Regions from separate parts of the Homo sapiens genome. Here all the other regions are linked to region 3. Evidence: fine-mapped expression QTL. A gene starts in region 3. Each other region holds a variant in brackets. All regions are shown on one strand. Distances are between the middles of the regions.

The links. PIP is the estimated chance that this variant, and not a neighbour inherited with it, causes the effect.
Region 1: its variant is fine-mapped to the expression of MRPL38 in whole blood (TOPMed, PIP above 0.99).
Region 2: its variant is fine-mapped to the expression of MRPL38 in whole blood (TOPMed, PIP 0.97).
Region 4: its variant is fine-mapped to the expression of MRPL38 in whole blood (TOPMed, PIP above 0.99).
Region 5: its variant is fine-mapped to the expression of MRPL38 in cerebellar hemisphere (GTEx, PIP 0.98).

The regions. Positions count from the first base shown.
Region 1 is chr17:75,852,184-75,856,298 of GRCh38, forward strand. It overlaps WBP2 (WW domain binding protein 2), which reads right to left and starts at 3,152. Exons shown (of 8, transcript NM_012478.4): 1 at 3,056-3,152. The coding sequence starts at 3,114. RefSeq lists enhancers at 3,238-3,367, 3,976-4,115 and a silencer at 3,738-3,907. The variant G/A (reference allele first, on the strand shown) is at 1,595.
Region 2 is chr17:75,799,955-75,804,069 of GRCh38, forward strand. The region is part of intron 1 of UNK (unk zinc finger); the gene reads left to right. Among named protein-coding and RNA genes, the nearest start is that of UNK, 17 kb to the left of the region's middle. The variant C/T (reference allele first, on the strand shown) is at 2,371.
Region 3 is chr17:75,903,308-75,907,420 of GRCh38, forward strand. MRPL38 (mitochondrial ribosomal protein L38) reads right to left here and starts at 1,577. Exons shown (of 9, transcript NM_032478.4): 1 at 1,502-1,577; 2 at 1,233-1,412. The coding sequence starts at 1,568. RefSeq lists silencers at 1,373-1,422, 1,443-1,492, 1,503-1,982.
Region 4 is chr17:75,827,405-75,831,512 of GRCh38, forward strand. It overlaps UNC13D (unc-13 homolog D), which reads right to left. Exons shown (of 32, transcript NM_199242.3): 26 at 3,839-3,944; 27 at 3,694-3,765; 28 at 3,174-3,257; 29 at 2,958-3,078; 30 at 2,624-2,747; 31 at 1,383-1,579; 32 at 1-682. The coding sequence ends at 561. Among named protein-coding and RNA genes, the nearest start is that of UNC13D, 15 kb to the right of the region's middle. RefSeq lists enhancers at 2,345-3,333, 3,004-3,298, 3,334-4,108. The variant G/C (reference allele first, on the strand shown) is at 2,322.
Region 5 is chr17:74,976,874-74,980,988 of GRCh38, forward strand. No RefSeq gene overlaps it. Among named protein-coding and RNA genes, the nearest start is that of HID1, 6.2 kb to the left of the region's middle. The variant C/A (reference allele first, on the strand shown) is at 2,421.

The sequences.
Region 1 (4,115 bases), 51 kb before region 3:
TGAGGCGGGTGAATCGCTTGAGCCTAGGAGTTTGAGACCAGCCTGGGCAACATGGTGAGACCTCATCTCTACAAAAAAACTAAAAACCAACAAAAAAACCCATTAATATAGCCATGGAAGAAATGAGCAGGTTGGGGGTTCTGTAAAATTTCCCAAACCCCGCTTATAAAGCCCCCAAATGATCAACATGGTAGCAGAGCTACAGGGCTCTGAAGAGGCCATCATCCCTCAAGCAAGTTAGATAATCTGGCTTAACTCTTCTATTTTCTTTATTTTTTTTTTTTTTTTTTGAGACGGAGTCTCACTCTGTCACCCAGGCTGGCGTGCAGTGGCGTGATCTCGGCTCACTGCAAGCTCCGCCTCCTGGGTTCATGCCATTCTCCTGCCTCAGTCTCCCAAGTAGCTGGGACTACAGGCGCCCGCCACCACGACTGGCTAATTTTTTGTATTTTTAGTAGAGACGGGGTTTCACCGTGTTAGCCAGGATGGTCTCGATCTCCTGACTTCGTGATCCACCTGCCTCGGCCTCCCAAAGTGCAGGGATTACAGGCGTGAGCCACTGCGCCCGGCCAACTCTTCTATTTTCTTTTAAGTCCTTGTGATAGATGTTCTGTTTTTGCTGGTTTGTTTTTCAAGCCTAAAATATAAACATGTCTAAGAGATGACTGTACAGATCACAATAGGACGTCCTTCGGGGTTCTTTTAAACCTGGGTTCTTAAGCGGGGTTTGCAGGAAAGTCCATGAAGCCCTTGAGATGATCACGTATGTCATATGTGCATTTTTCTGGGAGGAGAGTCCACAGCTTTCATCATTGTCAAAGGAGTTCACGACTTGAAGAGTAACGTTCACTATTTTAATTATAATTTTTTATTTTTTTGAGACGGAGTTTCACTCTTGTTGCCCAGGCTGCAGTGCAACATAGCGTGATCTCAGCTCACTGCAACCTCCACCTCCTGCGTTCAAGCGATTCTCCTGTCTCAGCCTTCCAAGTAGCTGGGATTACAGGCATGCGCCACCACGCCTGGCTAATTTTTTGTGTTTAGTAGAGACGAGGTTTTACCATGTTGGTCAGGCGGGTTTCAAACTCCTGACCTCAAGTGATCCACCCACCTCAGCCTCCCAAAGTGCTGGGATTACAGGCGTGAGCCACCATGCCCAGCCTAATTATCAAATTTTGGACACTGGACTTAACACTTCAATTGTTATAGATACAACTTTTTCAGACAGCAGGCTGAAGCACTTTCTAAAACAGCAGGCTGAAGGCACACCTTACTTAGCAGGACTGAGCCCTAAGCCAGGTAGAAGGCCGAGCAGGATAGATACATTCTTGTCTCAGAAAGTTCCACAGAGACAGAAAGAAAAACAGTCCCCAGAGATGTTGCCAAATGGCACGAAAAGCTGGCCAGGCCTGGGAACTGACTCACACACAGAGATGCAACAAAACAGTGTGAGGTGTCTCTGATTACATGATAAAAAGGTTCACACGGTTCTGTTTGTCTTCTGCCTCCCCCCATATATCACAACTTTCTCTGACTGGGGAAGGGTAAGTGGGAAACAACTGGTATAAGCAAAGGAAAATGGCTGGGCGCGGTG[G/A]CTCACTCCTGTAATCCCAATACTTTGGGAGGCCGAGGAGGGTGGATCACGAGGTCAGGAGTTCGAGACCAGCCTGCCCAACATGGTGAAACCCTATGTCTACTAAAAATACAAAAAATTAGCTGGGTGTAGTGGCGGGTGCCTGTAATGCCAACTACTGGGGAGGCTGAGGCAGGATAATCGCTTGAACCCAGGAGGCGGAGGTTGCAGTGAGCTGAGATCGTGCCACTGCACTCCAGCCTGGGCGACAGAGCAAGCCTCCATCTAAAAAAAAAAAAAAAAAAAAAAAAAAAAGAGAAGAGAAGTACTGCTCAGAGAAAAGAAGGAATTACCAGCAACAGGCTGGGCCCATGAAACTCTGAGCGGGTAAGATAGAGGGAAAGTGAGCATGCTGGGTCACTCTAGGCATTTTCCTCTGACTCATCAAACATTCCCAAGTCACAGGGCAGCTGGATGCTGGCCTTAGCTGGGTACAGGGCTCTGACTCCACGATGTCTCCTTTGGGGACTCAGGTGCCTCCTAAGCTCCTTCTGCCTTCAAGAGGCAATTCAGGGTCGGCATAGTTCAACCCAGGGCTGGCTGGTCTGATTTTCAATACCCAAGGAACAAAAGGAGACAGAGGCCATTTAAGGCTTCTCTTGGCAGAGACTGGAGGAGAGACAGGATGCAATGAGCAAGGGGTGGGGAGGATGGAGTGGAAAGAACCTTGAATTAGGAGAGCTCTGCCTTCCGAGGTGACCCAAACCAACAGGCATTCAAGAGAGAGGCAAGGGAATGACTACGGACCCACACAGTGCCAGGAACTGTTAGACACCTGACAAACGTCATCTGTTTAATTTCACCTCTGGGACCTCAGTTTTTTACCGGGAACCTGAACAGTTCTGGAACATACTGGAAGCCTGTATGCTGGTGGTTAATCCTATTAACTTTGGAGTCAAGACTCCTTTCCTGGAATTACCACCTCTGTTACTTACACAGTTGCGATCTCGGGCAAGTTACTTAACCTTTCTGCCCTCCACTTTCCCTACCTGTGAAATGTGGACAGTAGTAGATTATACTGCACAGAATTTATTAAATAAGGTAGAAAAGGCGCAGAGCCTGACACGTAGTAACGTTGTAGACATCCAATAAGTGACAATTATTTTTGTTTGGGGCTCCTCCCAGCTACTGAAATCACAAGTCTGGGAAGGGGTTCAAGAATCACCCCTAGGCCCCACCGGGGGCCCCATACCAGGTCCCCATGCAGACGTCCCACCCCCGCCTCCCAGCTGATCACAACCTCCCGGGCTCTCCCCCACGGCCCACCCACCTTCCTCCAACCCCGCCCCCAGCCGTTCCCCACCAACCTCACTCCATCAGTGCTCCCTCTTCAGGGGCTTATTCCCCACCACCCACCACCCACCGCCCACTTCCTCGACACCCGAACTTTGGTCCTCCAGGATCCTTCCGCAGTGTTTTCACCTCTCGGTGTTATTGACGATCACTCCGCCGCCCTCCGAGTGATTCTTGTTGAGCGCCATAGTCTCTCCAACAGGGGTCCCGAGACTCAAAACGCAATGAGCTTGCGCCCCTCTTCGCCCCGCCCCTAGTGGCGTCTTCTTATTAGAGTCAGCCAATCAAAGCTCGAGTGCGGAGGCTGGCCCAAACACCTGACCCGAACGTCACGTGGTAATAGTTTACTCCCTCCTTCCAGTTCCTCCTGCGCAACAAACAAGATGAAGACTACAATTCCCAGCAGGCAACGCCCCCGCAGCCTCGGCCTGTCCCTATGCTGGAGGAAGGATGCATTCTGGAACTTGTAGTCTCCTGGATCATAGGCCTGAATTGGTTCCACATTTTGCGTAACCAATCGGCTTGTGCCATCCCCACCCCGCCTCTTCAGCCGGACGGAAATAAACAGTTCCGCTCCTGGCAGGGGCGCGATCTTGGGGACTCCGGCAGCGCGTTAAGGGAAGTCCTGCTGGTCGAATGCGACCTGGACATGGCGTGGGAGCGCCGAGCTGTCCCCTTGTGGATGGGGAGCTTTCGTTCACTCAGCAGACGTTTATGGGGCGCATGCGTGACTCTGGGGCGTTTAGCTGAGCCGGAGGCCCCGGCTCTTGGGGACGCGGTGGGCTGGCGGCGTCGGATCACCCCGCCATCCATCTCACCACTCCCAGCGCTGAGCCCGGGGGGCGGGGAGAGTCCCTCATGGGAAGGGGAGGCCGTGTGCCCCGCCTGGCTCCCACCACGTTCGCAGGCCGGCCGGGCGCCCCTCGCAGCCCCCTCTCCGGCCTCGCGGTGGCGCCGCTCCCCCCTTAGCGCCCAGCGGGGTCCCGGCCGGAAGACTGAAGGCTGAGTGGGACTGGGCACGGCGCGAAACCGGCATCCTGATAACTAGGATTTACAGAATAAGGCTGACTCCTGTCAGCTCGTGACCCAGCCCTGGGCGTCCTCCACGGGGCAGCTGTCATTCCCTAACCGCCCCCCACCAAACCCCTGCACCTCCGAGCTGAATCCGTGAGGCGGAGAGAGGGGGCTG
Region 2 (4,115 bases), 100 kb before region 3:
ACAAAAAGGGGAAAAAAAAGACAAAAAAACCCAAGTGTAGAGCAGAGGTCAGCAAACCGGCTTGCATGCCAAATCCAGCCTGCTGCCTGCTTTTTTAAGGCCCACAAGGTAAGAATTGTTTTCACTTTCTTTTGAGACAGGTCTCAGTCTATCCTCCTGGCTGGAGTGCAGTGGCACAATCTTGGCTCACTGCAGTCTCGACCTCCCAGGCTCAAAGAATCCTCCTGCCTCAGCCTCCTGAGTAGCTGGGACTATAGGTGTGCACCACCACACCCGGCTAATTCTTGTATTTTTTTGGTAGAGACAGCGTTTTGCCACATTGCCCAGGCTGGTCTCCAATTCCTGAGCTCAAGCGATCCACCCGCCTTGGCCTCTCAGAGTGCTGGGATTACAGGCATGAGCCACTGTGCCCTCCCTTCACATTTTTTCAATGGTTGAAAAGATATTTCGTGATGTGACGATTGTATGAATTTCAAAGAGTCCCTAAATAAAGCTTCCTTTGGGCTGGGCGCGGTGGCTCATGCCTGTAATCCCAGCACTTTGGGAGGCCGAGGCGGGCGGATCATGAGGTCAGGAGATTGAGACCATCCTGGCTAATAAAGTGAAACCCCGCCTCTCCTAAAAATAAAAAAATTAGCTGGGCATGGTGGCGGGCGCCTGTAATCCCAGCTACTCGGGAGGCTGAGGCAGGAGAATGGCATGAACCCAGGAGGCAGAGCTTGCAGTGAGCTGAGATCGCGCCACTGCACTCCAGCCTGGGTGACAGAGCGAGACTCTGTCTCAAAAAATAAAAAATAAATAAAATAACGCTTCCTTTGAACCTGCACTCATTCGTTTCTCTGTTGTCTTGGCTGCTTGTGCACTTCAACTACAGACTCAAGTAGTTGCAACAGGAGACTGACTATATGTGATGCTCATTGCTTCTCATTGCTGCACGTGTCAGCATACCACATTTTTTGTTTTTTTTGAGACGGAGTGTCACTCTGTCGCCCAGGCTGGAGTGCAGTGGCGTGATCTGGGCTCACTGCAAGCTCTGTCTCCCGGGTTCATACCATTCTCCTGCCTCAGCCTCCTGAGTAGCTGGGACTACAGGCGCCAGCCACCACGCCCGGCTAATTTTTTGTATTTTTAGTAGAGACGGGGTTTCACCATGTTAGCCAGGATGGTCTCGATCTCCTGACCTCATGATCCGCCCGCCTCGACCTCCCAAAGTGCTGGGATTACCGGTGTGAGCCACTGCACCCAGCCAGCATACCATGTTTTATACGTTCTTCATCACCAGTGCATACCTCTTATGTCAAAAGAAGAGAGGAAGAGAAAAATGCACTTCAAGTATTTTACTTTTAAGGCTCGGTGGCATGTGGATTATTTGTTAACACATTTGGTGGCAAAGCACCCAATAATAAAGATAGCTGTGACTGGGCATGGTGGCTTATGCTTGTAATCCCAGCACTTTGGGAGACCGAGGCAGGAGGACACCTTGAGCCCAGGAGTCAAGATTGCAATGAGCTGTGATTACACTACTGCACTCCAGCCTGGTAACGGAGTGAGACCCTGTCTCTTTATTTAAATAAAGAAGGAAATATTCCTTTAAAATTTATTTTTCCTTTTTTTTTTGAGATCACTCTGTCGCCCAGGCTGGAGTGAAGTGGCATGATCTCTGCTCATTGCAGCCTCCACCTCCTGGGCTCAAGCGATTCTCCTGCCTCAGCCTCCTGAGTAGCTGGGACTACAGGCGCCCGCCACCACACCTGGCTAATTTGTATTTTTAGTAGAGACGGGGTTTCACCATATTGGCCAGGTTGGTCTTGAACTACTGACCTTGTGATCCACCCGTCTCAGCCTCGCAAAGTGTTGGGATTACAGGTGTGAGCCACTGCACCCGGCTCCCCCCAGCCTTTTTTTTTTTTTTGGAGACAGAGTCTTGCTCTGATGCCCAGGCTGGAGTACAGTGGTGCGCTCAGCTCATTGCAACCTCAACTTCCCTGGTTCAAGTGATTCTTGTGCCTCAGCCACCCAAGTAGTTGGGATTATAGGTGTGAGCCACCACGCCTGGGTAATTTTTTGTATTTTTAGTAGAGATGGGATTCTCCATGTTGGCCAGGCTGGCGTCAAACTCCTGACCCTAAGTGATTTGCCCGCCTTGGCCTCCCAAAGGGCTGGGATTACAGGAGTGAGCCACTGCGCCTGACCTAAAAATTTTTTTCTGACCATTGCTTGCTTTTCTGGGAATCTTGTGATAAGTGCTTTGTCTGATAATGCTGATGGATTTTTTCAGCACAGATGTCTTTTTTTTTTTTTTTTTTTTTTTTTTTTTTTTTTGAGACAGGGTCTCGCTCTGTCACCCAGGCTGGCATGCAGTGGTGCAAC[C/T]GTAGCTCACTGCAACCTCAAACTCTTGGGTTTAGTGATCCTTTCACTTCAGCCTCCCAAGTAGCTGGGACTACAGGTGCATGCCTGGCTTAGTTTTTTAAAAAAATGTTTTAAAACTGTTTTAGTGATGGGGTCTTGCTATGTTGCCCTCAAACTCCTAGGCTCAGGTGATCCTCCCACCTCCGCCTCCTGTGTTGCTGGGATTACGGGGATGAGCCACTGCATGCAGCTAGGAATATTTCCTTACAGCAGAATTTCTTCACAAGAATTAAAACTACATTTTTGTAGTTTCAGTTGCAGGCTACAACTGAAGCAGGTTTCTGAGTGGCTCATTTGTTAGCTAGGCAAGGAAAGCCATTTACTGATGTTGAGTTAATTAAATTGTGTTTGACTGCAGCAGCTGGAGAAGTGTGTCCAGATAAAACACATTTTTGTTTGAGAGTGTTAGCTTTTCAGCAGGAACAGTGTCTCAAAATGTTGAGGACATTAGGAGCAATGTCAGTAGTCAATTAAAAAAGAAGGCCGGGCACCATGGCCCACACCTGTAATCCCAGCACTTTGAGAGGCCAAGGTGGGCGGATCACGAGGTCAGGAGATTGAGACCACCCTGGCCAACATGGTGAAACCTCGTCTCTACTAAAAATACAAAAATTACAGGCCGGACGCGGTGGCTCACACCTGTAATCCCAGCACTTTGAGAGGCCAAGGTGGGCGGATCACGAGGTCAGGAGATTGAGACCACCCTGGCCAACATGGTGAAACCTCGTCTCTACTAAAAATACAAAAATTACAGGCCGGACGCGGTGGCTCACACCTGTAATCCCAGCACTTTGGGAGGCCAAGGCGGGCACATCATGAGGTCAGGAGATCAAGACCATCGATCTCCCAACACGGTGAAACCCCGTCTCTACTAAAAAATACAAAAAAATTTAGCTGGGCATTGTGGCAGGCACCTGTAGTCCCAGCTACTTGGGAGCCTGAGGCAGAAGAATCACTTGAACCCGGGAGGCGGAGGTTGCAGTGAGCCTAGATCACGCCACTGCATTTCAGCCTGGTGACAGAGCCAGACATCATCAAAAAGAAGGCCGATTTCATGTGGTTTTTCCTGGCTGTCGGTGAGTCCACAGCTAAGAAAACACTAATTCAGTACAACCTAAAGTGTAATCTGCTAGTATCTTTTACAGCTGGTGGTGGTAAAAATATGTGTACAGCGGAAGAATAATTGGACAAATTTACAAAACTTGTGAAAATGTAAGGTGGTTTATTCATTGTGTTATTCATCAGCAGGTACTTTGCAGAAAATATCTTAATTTATCATGTGTTATTGAACTCTTAGCATCAGTAATTTTACTTGGTTTTGTGAATCATCATCAGTTCCATAAGTTTTTGTCAGAAATAGAAGCTGAATATTCTGATGTGCCCTGCCGCGCAGTAGTTTGATGGCTTAGCAGTGGTAGTTTTCTTTCAACTTTTTGAGCTCAGGGCTGAGATTGAAAATTTTCTGAATGAGGAGAATCGCTCCCAACCACTATTGAATGCTGAATGGCTTTGGAAATTAGCTTTTGCTGCAGACTAGGTAATGTTTGTTAATGAATTCAACCTAAAACTCCAAAGTAAAACAGTGCTTATGCAAACCCTATGCTTCAGGGAAGTCATGTTGATGACAGCAAATGTTTAAATCATATGTCATGTTAAACTGCCTTGTATACTTCCTGTGCTGGCAAAAGTGAAAACAAAGGCAAGCT
Region 3 (4,113 bases):
CAGAAGCAGGAAAATCGCTTGAACCCAGGAGGCAGAGGTTGCAGTGAGTCATCGCACCACTGCACTCCAGCCTGGGCAACAGAGCGAGCCTCTGCCTTAAAACAAAACAAAACAAAATAATAATAACGAAAACATACTGAGCCCTCATCAGAGATGGCATTAGGCAAAAATGCCAATGAATTGCCTCTTTTAATCCTCACAGCAATTTTGTAGCAAAGACACAATTATTTTATTTTACAGTTGAAACAAGCTCAAGGACATTATCCGAGAGGCTGAGCTAGGATTTAAATCGGGCTATTTAGATTCCACGCTTGTGCCTTTAACCACCACAAAACTGCCTCTATAAATGCTAAAGAAAAGAAAAGAAAAGAAAAGCATATACTCCATAAATTGTAAGTTCCTTAAAGGTTGGGGTCTTTTTTTTTTTTTCTTTTTGAGACGGAGTTTCGCTCTTGTTGCCCAGGCTGGTGTGCAATGGCGCGATCTCGGCTCACCGCAACCTCTGCCTCCTGGGTTCAAGCGATTCTCCTGCCTCAGAGGCCTCCCGAGTAGCTGGGATTACAGGCATGCGACACCACGCCCAGTTAATTTTGTATTTTTAGCAGACACGGGGTTTCTCCATGTTGGTCAGGCTGGTCTCGAACTCCCGACCTCAGGTGATCCGCCCGCCTAGGCCTCCCAAAGTGCTGGGATTACAGGCGTGAGCCACCGCGCCCGGCCAGGTTGGGTTCTTTTTTGAGTCACCCTGCCCAGGCCTTTAATTTCATTCAGCAAAGTATTGCACATGTACATCCTTGCACTGTTCGGGTGCAAGGATCCAATGGAGGGCAAGACAAGCAGGATCCCTGTCAACAGGGCGCTTACAATCTGGGGAGAGGCAGCGCACAGTCAGAATGCAGTGTGGCCAGAGTTACCTACAGAGTATTTGAGGCGCACAGAACGGCATCCCAATCCGGAAAGTCAGGTGGTCAAGATTTTAGGAGCAAATATTTTAGGAGCTGGAACTCTAATAGTAGGGGGAGCGAATTTTCCAAGAATGAGGTGCAGAAGGTGTGAAAAATCCTGGGGTGATTAAGCTGCCGATAGCGCACACAGGTCTGCAGGCAGGCCCTCCCAGCGTCCCCAGCATCCACAAGGGCGCCGGCAAGGCTCGCCCAGCGCCCGGGGAAAACGCCGGCGGGTCCCGAGTTCCCCGGGCGGTGGCTGCAGCCCCTGCTCCAGTCGCCCCGCACCTGTCTTCTCCCCGAAATACTCTCGGTAGGTCCGCCACCAGTGCGGGGCCTGCGCCTCCTGCTCTGCTCGGCGCCGGTAGCGGTCGAAGCTCCGGTACTTCTCCAGCCGCTCCAGGTTGCTCAAGTCGATGTCACTGTTGGGCATCGGCCCCAGCGGGGGTGTCCGGCGGCCCAGGACGGCTGCGGGCAGAGAGAAGACGTAAGGCCGGCGCCCCACAGCTCGGGCGACAGCCCCCCCCCCCCCCCCCGCAGAGCTGCCCACCCCTCACCCGAGGTGCTGAAGCCCCGCCATCTCCGACACTCGCACAGCGCGGCTCGCCACCAGGGCGCCGCCATCTTCCCTCCGGCCTGCGACACTGCGGCCGCCACTAGGACCCGGGCACAGGTGGCCAGCGCGGTGCCTGAGCGCACCACAGCAGGCCCCGCCCCTAGGCCCGCCCCCGGGCCCGCGCTGCGGAGCAGGCCTCAGACGCCTGTCCCGGAGGCCCCTGCACCGTCTGCCTCGGGCGCAGGTGGAAGGTGGCCGCGGTCTGTAGACGCCCGGCTCCGGAAGTGCCCGTTGGACGGCGGGGCGGAGCCGAGAGCAGTCATATGCTCGCCCATGGCTGGCCACCAGGGGGCGGCACAGACCGGGGTCGGCCGCCGGGGCCCTCCTCCAACCCCTGGACGCTGCGTCCTGATTTCCCCAGGGACGCAGGCCTGGTTGGGAGAAGGGGTGCGAGCTCCGATTCCGGACTCTGCTTGGGTTTAAAACCCAGATTGAGGGCTGGGCGCGGTGGCTCACGCCGGGAATCCCAGCACTTTGGGAGGCCAAGGCGGGTGGATCACGAAGTCAGGAGATCGAGACCATCCTGGCCAACACGGTGAAAACCCGTCTCTACTCAAAATACAAAAATTAGCCGGGCGTGGCATACGCCTGTAATCCCAGCTACTCGGGAGGCTGAGGGAGGAGACTCGCTTGAACCTGGGAGGCAGAGGCGGAGGCTGCAGTGAGCCGAGATCGCGCCACTGCACTCCAGCATGGGCGACAAAAGTGAAAACTCTATTTCAATAATAATAATAATAATAAAATAATAGTAATAAAAACCCAGATTGTGGCTGGGCGCGGTGGCTCATACCTGTAATCCCAGCACTTTGGGAGGCCGAGGTGGGCGGATCATCTGAGGTAATTAGTTTGAGACCAGCCCTACGAACATGGCAAAACCCTAAAGATACAAAAATTTTTGTATCTCTACTAATGATACAAAAATTAGCCGGGCGTGGTGGCAGGCGCCTGTAATCCCAGCTACTCAGGAGGCTATGGCACAAGAATTAACTTGAACCCGGGAGGCAGAAGCTGCAGTGAGACGAGATTGCGCCACCACCTCGGTGCCAGAGTGAGACACCGTCTCAAAATGCCCCTCCCCCCCCCCAAAAAAAAACCAGATCGTGACCTTACTGTCTTCCTTGTGGTTTCCTCATTTGGGAAAAAGCAGGTTAACACTAGTGCTTACCTGACAGCTGTCAGGATGAAAAGATTACCCTCTGGAAAGCGCTCGCAGTGGTTTGTGTGTTAGCTCAACTATCTCCAACTTCTCATTATCCACACAAAGGCAGAAGTGACCTGGTTAAGTGCAGATGTGAATGTTTCTGGCAGGACTCAGGCTTGCCCTTGTGATCCAGTTCTACCATGGCAAAACTTGGTAGCCTGGGGAATCTGGGACCCTCCTTTGCCCCAGCCCTGGCCCTCCTGCCCTAAAAGGCAAGACTTTTCCATCGCACTTTGCCTCCAGGCCACGGGGCCTTTGTATACGCTGTGTCTTCTGCCTCTCACCTCCTCACTGCCCCACCTTGGCCTGGCCACCACCCAGCCCCAGGAGAGGGGTCTCTCCAGGAAGCCTGCTCTGACATCCCAGGCCAGGGCTGGTGGTGACCAGGCCAGTGGCTCTGGCACCAGCAGAAGCTTGACCCTCACAATCACTTTGAGATGGAATGAGAATGGAATGAGGGTCTCTCCATCCAGCAGGAAGTGGCCACACCTTCCACTGGTTTTCATAAACAGCAGCCAAACAGCTAAACCTTTCACAGTCATTTCTAATCCACCCAGCAGTGTGCACCTGCTACATGCTAAGTGTGGAGGGGAATACGTGGGGCAGTCACACCCAGTCCTGCTCGTAAGGAGTTGCTTATTGTGACATTCCATACTGCAGTTATGCAGTACAGGAGCATAACTGGATTGTGTGTTTACATCGTGGCTGTTTTACCTTGTCCTTTTTTTTTTTTTTTTTGAGATGGAGTTTCTGTCGCCCAGGCTGGAGTGTAGGGGCACGACCTCGACTCACTGCAACTTCCGCCTCCCAGGTTCAAGTGATTCTCCTGCCTCAGCCTCCCGAGTAGCTGGGATTACAGGCATGCACCACCACGCCTGGCTAATTTTTTGTATTTTTAGTAGAGACTTGGTTTCACCATATTGGCCAAGCTGGTCTCAAACTACTGACCTCAGGTGACCCACCCACCTCGGCCTCCCAAAGTGCTGGGATTACAGGTGTGAGCCACTGCACCCGGCCACCTTGTCCTTTTGTTTCTGAATCATTTTCTTCAGCCTCTAAACCCACCCGCTCTACCCCACGACCCTCCCAGCCCTCTCCAGATGAAGATGTATGGGGCCTTGGCAGTTGGCGTGGAAGCTGCTGGCCACCCAGGTGGCGGTGCATTCCTCCATTCTTGTCCTCTTGCTGTCCTAGAACCCTGATTGGCGCTTGCTTGGATATTAACAGTTTGAGAGAGGCTTCACGTGGATTCCCACGTGTACCAACTTGAAGCAAATAACGATGAATATCTTGAAACTAGAAGCAGTGGCTCTACCATTTTAAAAAAATATATGGGGGTCTCACTATGTTGC
Region 4 (4,108 bases), 76 kb before region 3:
GTTCTTGGCTCCAGGCTTCCTGGCCTGGATGCTGGCAGCCCCTGGGGAGAGGACCCAGGCCCCCTCTAGTAATGGCCACCACCCTCCCCCCAGGGCAGCTGGAGCCTCATCTTTGGCAGGGTCCCCTCTCCCTTTTCCAGGAGACTCTGTGCCTGTAGCCCTGGTCCCAGTGAACCTGGCCCCCACCCCAGTGGCTGGAACAGGAAGGCCAGGAGGCAGATGGGCCAGGGCCAGGAGACAGATGGCCCAATCCCCTGCCCACCACAGCAGCTTTTCTGAGAGGCGGGCAGGGGCAGGGTTTGCTCCCCCTGGTGCTGGGATGTGGTAGAGACATTGCAGCCAGGGCTGGAGGCAGGGAGGCGGGAGTAGAGATGTCGCTGCTGAGCCCCCATCACCATGGGAGGCAGGGGAGGTCTGCACTCTGGGCACTCCGCATGCTGGGGCTCCCCAAGTGTTAGGCCAGGCTGGAGGGCCGCGATGTGGCGGGGAAGCCCCAGACCCTACAGGAAAGCCCTTGCAAGTCCCCACCGGGGACCCAGCCCCACCGCAAACCTCTACGGCTACGGTGCCGGCCGCAAGGCATGCTGGGAGGCCTGCTTGGCCCGGTGCCGCCGCAGCCTCACAAAGACCTGGGCTTCTCGGTCACCCTTCCGGCCCTCCAGCAGCTGCAGGATTGGGTCCCCTGCGGAGAGAGGGGTTTGGGGGTCAGATGCCAGGGGAGAGGGCAGTGCCTGGTGGTGGCAGAGAAGAGTGTGTGGGGGGGTACACAACACTGCTCCATCTCCCCAACAACCTGGAAGGAAACAAGTGACAGACCCGCGCCAGCCCAGCCCAGGAGGTGGTCTGACAGACGCATCCGGTCGGGTCGCGTAACAGACAGAGTGCTGCTGGGACACTGTCCTGACTGCAGCGAGGGGCTGAGATGTGCCTGAGGTTTGACTATTACCTTTTTATACGAGAACCTAAAGCTAGCAAGTTAACCTTTTCATGCCTCGGTTTACTCATCTGTAAAAGAGTGCTAATATCTGCTTCGTTGGCTGGAATGCATAAAGTGCTTAGCACTTGCTCATAATAAGTGCACAAGCATCAGACCGTTGCTGGTATCAAAAATGCTCTGCAGGGAAGCGGCCCCGCCGAGTGAGATCCAGGCCCTTCTCCCCAGTTAAACTTCTTGGTGACTTCCCCATGCAAGGAGAGTCACGTTACACTTAGCTTAAAGTTCACTGGTCTCTTGATTAGACCGAGAGATGGGCCGTGGCTGTCCCACTGGCTCCCGTCTCCAGGGAAGCTGTTCTCCGACCCTGGCATCACCTCTCTGGGGCCCCTGCCTGAGCTTTACAGGCTCCCGTCCCCGCACCACCCTGCCCTGGGCTCAGGCCTACCGTTGGGTGCGGGGTACGTGAGGGGCAGGCGGGTCTGAGGCACCTCACCAGGCTCCTCAGAGCCACTCAGCCCGGGCACCTCACGCAGCGGCAGGAAGGCCTCGCCTTCCAGGTCGTCGGCCCCCAGCGTGTCGTAGTCCAGCACGGTGAGCAGGAGGCATGCCCCAGCCTTGCGGCACGGCTCAGCAGGCACCAGGCTGCGGGGAGAGTCAGGGCTCTGCTGCCAGCCCCAGCACAGCCACCCCAGCCTCGGCACATGGGTTCACCCACTTGGTGTTGGGAACCAGCCAGGGTTTGGACTGCAAAGCCAGCTCTCAGCCTGGCACCTCTCAGCCATGTGGTGCAATGCCTGCTCTGACCGTGGGCTGATGCTTTAAACCAGCGGTCCTGTGTTCCCTGTTCACCTGTGCTGAGGAACTAGGAGCAGGTTACTGAGAACCTCAGAGACAGGACCCTTCCCTGGAAGTCCCTAAGTTAAACACCTGGGAGTCCACCCCTTCCCCCAAGGGAAGCAAACTTTTTTTTCTGAGACGGAGTCTTGCTCTGTCACCTAGGCTGGAGTGCAGTGGCGCCATCTTGGCTCACTACAACCTCCGCCTCCCGGGTTCAAGTGGTTCTCCTGCCTCAGCCTCCCGAGTAGCTGGGACTGCAGGCGTGTCCCACCACACCCAGCTAATTTTTTGTTTTTAGTAGAGACGGGGTTTCACCATGTTAGCCAGGATGGTCTTGATCTCCTGACCTCGTGATCCGCCCGCCTTGGCCTCCCAAAGTGCTGAGATTACAGGCATGAGCCACCACGCCTGGCCCTCTTTTTTTTTTTTTTTTTTTTTGAGATGGAGTCTCACTCTGTCGCCCAGGCTGGAGTGCAGTGGCACCATCTCAGCAGCCTCTGCCTCCTGGGTTAAGCAATTCTCCTGCCTCAGCCTCCCGAGTAGCTGA[G/C]AGTACAGGTACCCACCATCATGCCCGGCTAATTTTGTATTTTTAGTAGAGACTGTTGGCCAGGCTGGTCTTGAACTCCTGACCTCAAGTGATCCGCCTGCCTCGGCCTCCCAAAGTGCTGTGATGACAGGTGTGAGCCACCACATCCAGCTGCAAACTCTTGTCCCAGATGCCCCATCCCTTGGGCCCAAATGTGGCCATCTCAGGGGAGCCCCTTGGCCCCAGCCAGGAGGAGCAGGCCTGAGGGAGCCCAGTGGGGAGAGATGAGGGGAGGGACTGGGAGAAGAACGGGACCCACTCACAATTCAAAGGTCTCATCAAACAATGGGTGAAGGTCCTTCTTGTGCTTCTGGGTCTCCCGGGCGGCCAGCTCAGGGAACTCATGCCTGGGCTCCAAGGTCAGCTGGACAAAGGGGTCGCTGGAGCCTGGTAAGTGGCCGGGGAGTGTGCGTCAGCTGAGGGTCTCCCAGGCACCCCACCCCAGCAGCTATGCTCTGCTCAGCGGCACTGACCCCTCCTGGTAACTGGAGGAAATGCACCCAGAGCTCCTGCAGGGTGAGCGAAGCCCCCAGGGTCGCTGAGACAGGAGGGCCAGGACGGGACCATGGAGAGTGGCCAAAGGCAGCCTCCACTCACCATTGGAGTCCAGGGGCAGCAGGCTGGAGGCGCTGAGCAGCTCCACACGCAGCTTCTGCTCAGAGGCGCGGTAGGAGGCCTTGACTGTCACAGCCCCCAGCTCCTCAGAGGTGGTTTCTGCCTGGGGTGGGGAGCAGGGGCAGGGTCAGCAGGGTCACAGCGGGAGCGGGGTGCTCCAGGGCCTGCAGAGGGCGCAGTGCGAGGGAGGGGCCTCACCTGCTGCTGGATTCGGCTGCAGAAGTACTTCCGGATGAGTTCCCGGCTGGAGGCCGCCTGCAGCTCCAGGTCCCTCTGCAGAGCCTGGGAACACATACAGCTGAGGATCCACCTGGACTGCACGCCCAACCACAGCCCAGGCCTGCCCTCCAGGAGCTCACTGTCAAGGGTAACATGTCCGTTTGAAATGGAAAGTATTGGGTCATGGGACAACGGGCTGGGGCCACCCTCAGGCCAGACAGACAGCAGGAGAGGCACAGACAGGGCTGGCTTCACAGGCGTGCTTCCCCGACCCCACCCCCCATGCGGGCACACAGGGCCCCTGTGCTTAGGAGGACCCAGGCTTGGTTTCAGGTTCTGTCGTCACCGTTCTAAAATTTGTAATAACTTTTGAATAAGGGGCCCAGTTTTTCATTTTGTACTGGGCCCCATAAATTATGTAGCCGACCCTGGACATAGGTGAGTGCCAAAAGGCAGGCTCCCCAGACTTCCTACGGGGAAGCTCACCCAAAGCCCCTACCTGGAAGGTGGCAGTGTGCAGGGCCTTGGGTGGCAGGCCACAGCCCTCAGCGTGGAAGCAGATCTCCAGGTTCTGGGGGAGATATCAGAGGTGACCCCAGGCACCCTCCCACCAGGGTTATCATTGCTGTGACCGGTTCTGTTACCTGCAGGGCAATCTTCAGCCTGTTGGAAGCCAGGGATGAGCTGCGCTGGGAGGCGGCCGCCTCCACCAGCACTGTGAGTGTGTGGGTCCAGAGCAGGGTCAGGAGGCTGGGGCGGGGCCGGAGGGATGCGGACACAGCACGGCAGGGCGGTGGCGGAGGAGGAAGCAAAGACGCTCTTGAGAAAGGGGCGGCCTCAGTGACCCAGCCCCACCCCAGCTCCTCCCACCCCCAACCTCCCCCTCCGCCTCCCACCCCAGGTGAGGCTGGGGA
Region 5 (4,115 bases), 930 kb before region 3:
GGTAGGTTCTTCACTGTGATGTCTGCATATAGAAACCATGTCCTGTTCTCCTTTATGCCCACCATAAAAGGAAGACTCGCAGGTCTATGGCTGTCATGGCCCTCCCTGGCACCCTTTTTCTGAGTTCAACCGTCAATCATCCAACAAACACTTACTGAGGCCAAGAGCAGTGGGTCACGCCTGTAATCCCAGCACTTTGGGAGGCTGAGGCAGGTGGATCACCTGAGGTCCCAAGTTTGAGACCAGCCTGGCCAACATGGTGAAACCCTGTCTCTACTAAAAATACAAAAATTTAGCTGGGCATATAAAAATAATAATATTTTTATTTTATTTATTTATTTAATTTTTTATTTTGAGATAGAGTCTCTCTCTGTCACCCAGGCTGGAGTGCAGTGGCGTGATCTTGGCCCACTGCAACCTCTGCCTCCCAGGTTCAAGTGATTCTCCAGCCTCAACCTCCTGAGTAGCTGGGATTACAGATACGCGCCACCACAACAGGCTAATTTTTGTATTTTTAGTAGAGATGGGGTTTCACCTTGCTGGCCAGGCTGGTCTCCAACTCCTGACCTCAGGTGATCCACCCACCTTGGCCTCCCAAAGAGATGGGATTATAGGCATGAGCCACCACCCCCGGCCTCTATTATAATTTTTTGTGTGTGTGTGAGACAGAGTCTCTCTCTGTCGCCCAGGCTGGAGTGCAGTGGTGCTGTCCTGGCTCACTGCAAGCTCTGCCTCCCGAGTTTATGCCATTCTTCTGCCTCAGCCTCCCGAGTAGCTGGGACTACAGGCGCCCACCACCACACCCGGCTAATTTTTTGTATTTTTTTTAGTAGAAACAGGGTTTCACCATGTTAGCCAGGATGGTCTCGATCTCCTGACCTTGTGATCCGCCCGCCTCGGCCTCCCAAAGTGCTGGGATTACAGGCGTAAGCCACCGCGCCCAGACTATTATAATATTTTTAAAAATCAAAAAAAGAGAGAGGAGGGAGGGAGGAAGACAGACACCTGATTTGAGTGAAATGTAGAGAGACAGGAGATACGCTTGAAGTGGACCAGGAGCAGACCATAAAGGGCTGCATACATCCTGATAAAAGGCATTAATCTTATTCCATGAGCAACAAAGAGCCTGAGAAGCAGGGGAGTGATGTCATGAGATGTCATTAGATCTTAATGAAGCCATCCTGGCTGCAGCAGGAGAGAGAAATGACCTGAACATGGGGAATCCAGCTGGGAGGTGAGAGCTGATGAGGGCTCAACCAAAGCAGTCACAGATAGATGGAGAGGAAGCAGGCAGGTGGTATTGACAAGGTGGAGTCTTGGAACTTGGTTTTCTATCTCATATGTGTTCTAGGTACCATTGCTGCATAACAACCTTTCCACCAAACTTGGTGTAAAACTATAACCATTTTATTATGTTCACAAATTCCATGGGTCAGGAATTCAGACAGGACTCAGCTGCGGTGGCTGGTCTGTGCTTCACAATGTCTGCGGTCTCAGCTGAGAAGACCAGAATGGCTGGTGCTGGGGTTAACTTGGAACAGCTGGGGGGCTGAAATTACCAGGTGGCTTTACTCATACATCTGATGCCTGAGCTGGCAGGACCCAAAGACTGGGTTCAGCTGGGGCTGAAGACAGACACACCAACGTGTGACCTCTCCATGTGGCTTGGGCCTCTCTCAGCAAGGACACTGGGCTCTGTGAGGGAACACCCAAAAGATGCATATGAAAATAGGAAGTGGACACAGTGGCTCACACCTGTGATCCCAGCACTTTGGAAGGCCAAGGCCGGAGGATCGCTTGAGCCCAGGAGTTCGAGACCAGCCTGGGCAACATAACAAGACTCCATTTCTATAAAAAATAAGAAAAAAATACTAGCCAGGTGTGGTGGCAATTACCTGTAGTCTCAGCTACTCAGAAGGCTGAGGCAGGAGGATCGCTTGAGCCTGAGAGGTTGAGAATGCAATGAGCTATGATCTCACCACTGCACTCAGCCTGGGTGACAGAGCGAGACCCTGTCTCAAGAAAAAAAAAAAAAGAGAGAGAGAGAAAGAAAAGGAAAGAGGGTGTTCAAGAGAACAAGGGGGAAGTTGCATATCTGTTCAGCATCCAGTCTGGGAGGGAAGTAACATAGAAAGTCACTTTCACCACACTCTATTGGTCAAAATAGTCACAAGGTCACCAGATTCCAAGGGAGAGGACCTCTACCCCACCTCTCCATGGAAAGAGTGTCAGAGAATTTGGTACCATATTTTATTTTTATTTTTATTTTTATTTTTATTTATTTTTTGAGATGGAGTTCTGCTCTTGTCACCCAAGCTGGAGCGCAGCGGCGCGATCTCAGCTCACTGCAACCTCCGCCTCCTGGGTTCAAGTGATTCTCCTGCCTCAGCCTCCCGAATAGCTGGGACTACAGGTGTGCA[C/A]CACCACACCCCGCTAATTTTTGTATTTTTAGCAAAGACGAGGTTTCGCCATGTTGGCCAGGCTGGTCTCGAACTACTGACCTCAAGTGATCTGCCGCGTGCCTCAGCCTCCCAAAGTTCTGGTATTACAGGCATGAGCCACCACGCCTGGCCCATGTCACCCTTGGTGCCTCTCTTCCTGCTACCAACCCCCCACCAACCCCAACCAATTCATCACCAAGTCCTATGGTGTTATCCATCAAACATATATATTGTATCATCCTACGGCCCTTCATCTCCCCCGCCCTCACCTTTGCCAGGGTCCCATAACCTCCCACCTGTAGCAGCCTCCACTCATCCCCTCTCCCACCTACTCTCTGCAGAACAGCCCAAGTAATTTGAACATGGAGCTCACATCACTCCCCCATGAAGACTCCTCTGAGCACTGCGTCAGGAGCAACCTCCAAGGCCCCGCAAAGTCTGAGCCTGCTTCTCCTCCCTTCAGTCCCTGGGTTCCACCCACGTGGGTCTTCCTTCATTTTTCTCAACCACTCTAAGTCTTTCTGCCCAGGATCTTTGTATAGTTTGTTCCTTCTGCCTGGGACATCCCTCCTCCCACTCCTCATGTGACTGTCCCCTTTTCGTCCTCCAGGGTCTTATCTTAAAAGTCTCTTTCCGGCCGGGCGCAGTGGCCCACGCCTGTAATCCCAGCACTTTGGGAGCCCGAGGGGGGTGGGGGTTGGATCACGAGGTCAGGAGTTCAAGACCAGCCTGGCCAAGATGGTGAAACCCATCTCAACTAAAAATACAAAAATTAGCCGGTTGCGGTGGCAGGTGCCTGTAATCCCAGCTACTCGGGTTGGGGCGAGATCATTCAGCTACTTAGGAGGCTGAGGCAGGAGAATCACTTGAACCTGGGATGCGGAGCTTGCAGTGAGCCAAGATCGTGTCACTGCACTCCAGCCTTGGTGACAGAGTGAGACTCTGCCTCGAAAAAAAAAAAAAAAAGTCTCTTTCCCTGAGAGATTTCCCAGCTCCACCATTGTTACTTCAGTCCCCCATGTTCTTAACACTATTGTAAATATTTTTGCTTTTTTTTTTTTTTTTGAGACAGAGTCTCGCTCTGTCGCCCAGGCTGGAGTCCAGTGGCGCCATCTCGGCTCACTGCAAGCTCCGCCTCCCGGGTTCACACCATTCTCCTGCCTCAGCTTCCCGAGTAGCTGGGACTACAGGCGCCCGCCACCATGCCCGGCTAATTTTTTTTGTATTTTTAGTAGAGACGGGGTTTCACCGTGTTAGCCAGGATGGTCTGGATCTCCTGACCTCGTGATCTGCCCGCCTCGGCCTCCCAAAGTGCTGGGATTACAGGCATGGGCCATCGTGTCCAGCCTATTTTTGTCTTTTTAATTGTTTGACATCTGTCTCTTCTACTGAAATTCAAGCTTCCCGTGAGCAAGGACTGAGTCCGTTTTGTTCTCTGTATCCTCAGCACTCAGCACCATGTCTAACACATCATAAATATTTATTGGACAAATGAATGACAATAACTCCTGGGCTTCCAGCTTGGGTGATTACAGGAGGAGGAGCCAGTTGATCACCCACTTTAGTCAATAGGAATGACACATTTTGGCCAACTCTTTCTCAGATTTATCTTTTTTTTTTTTTTTTTTTTTTTTTTTGAGATGGAGTCTGTCGCCCAGGCTGGAGTGCAATGGC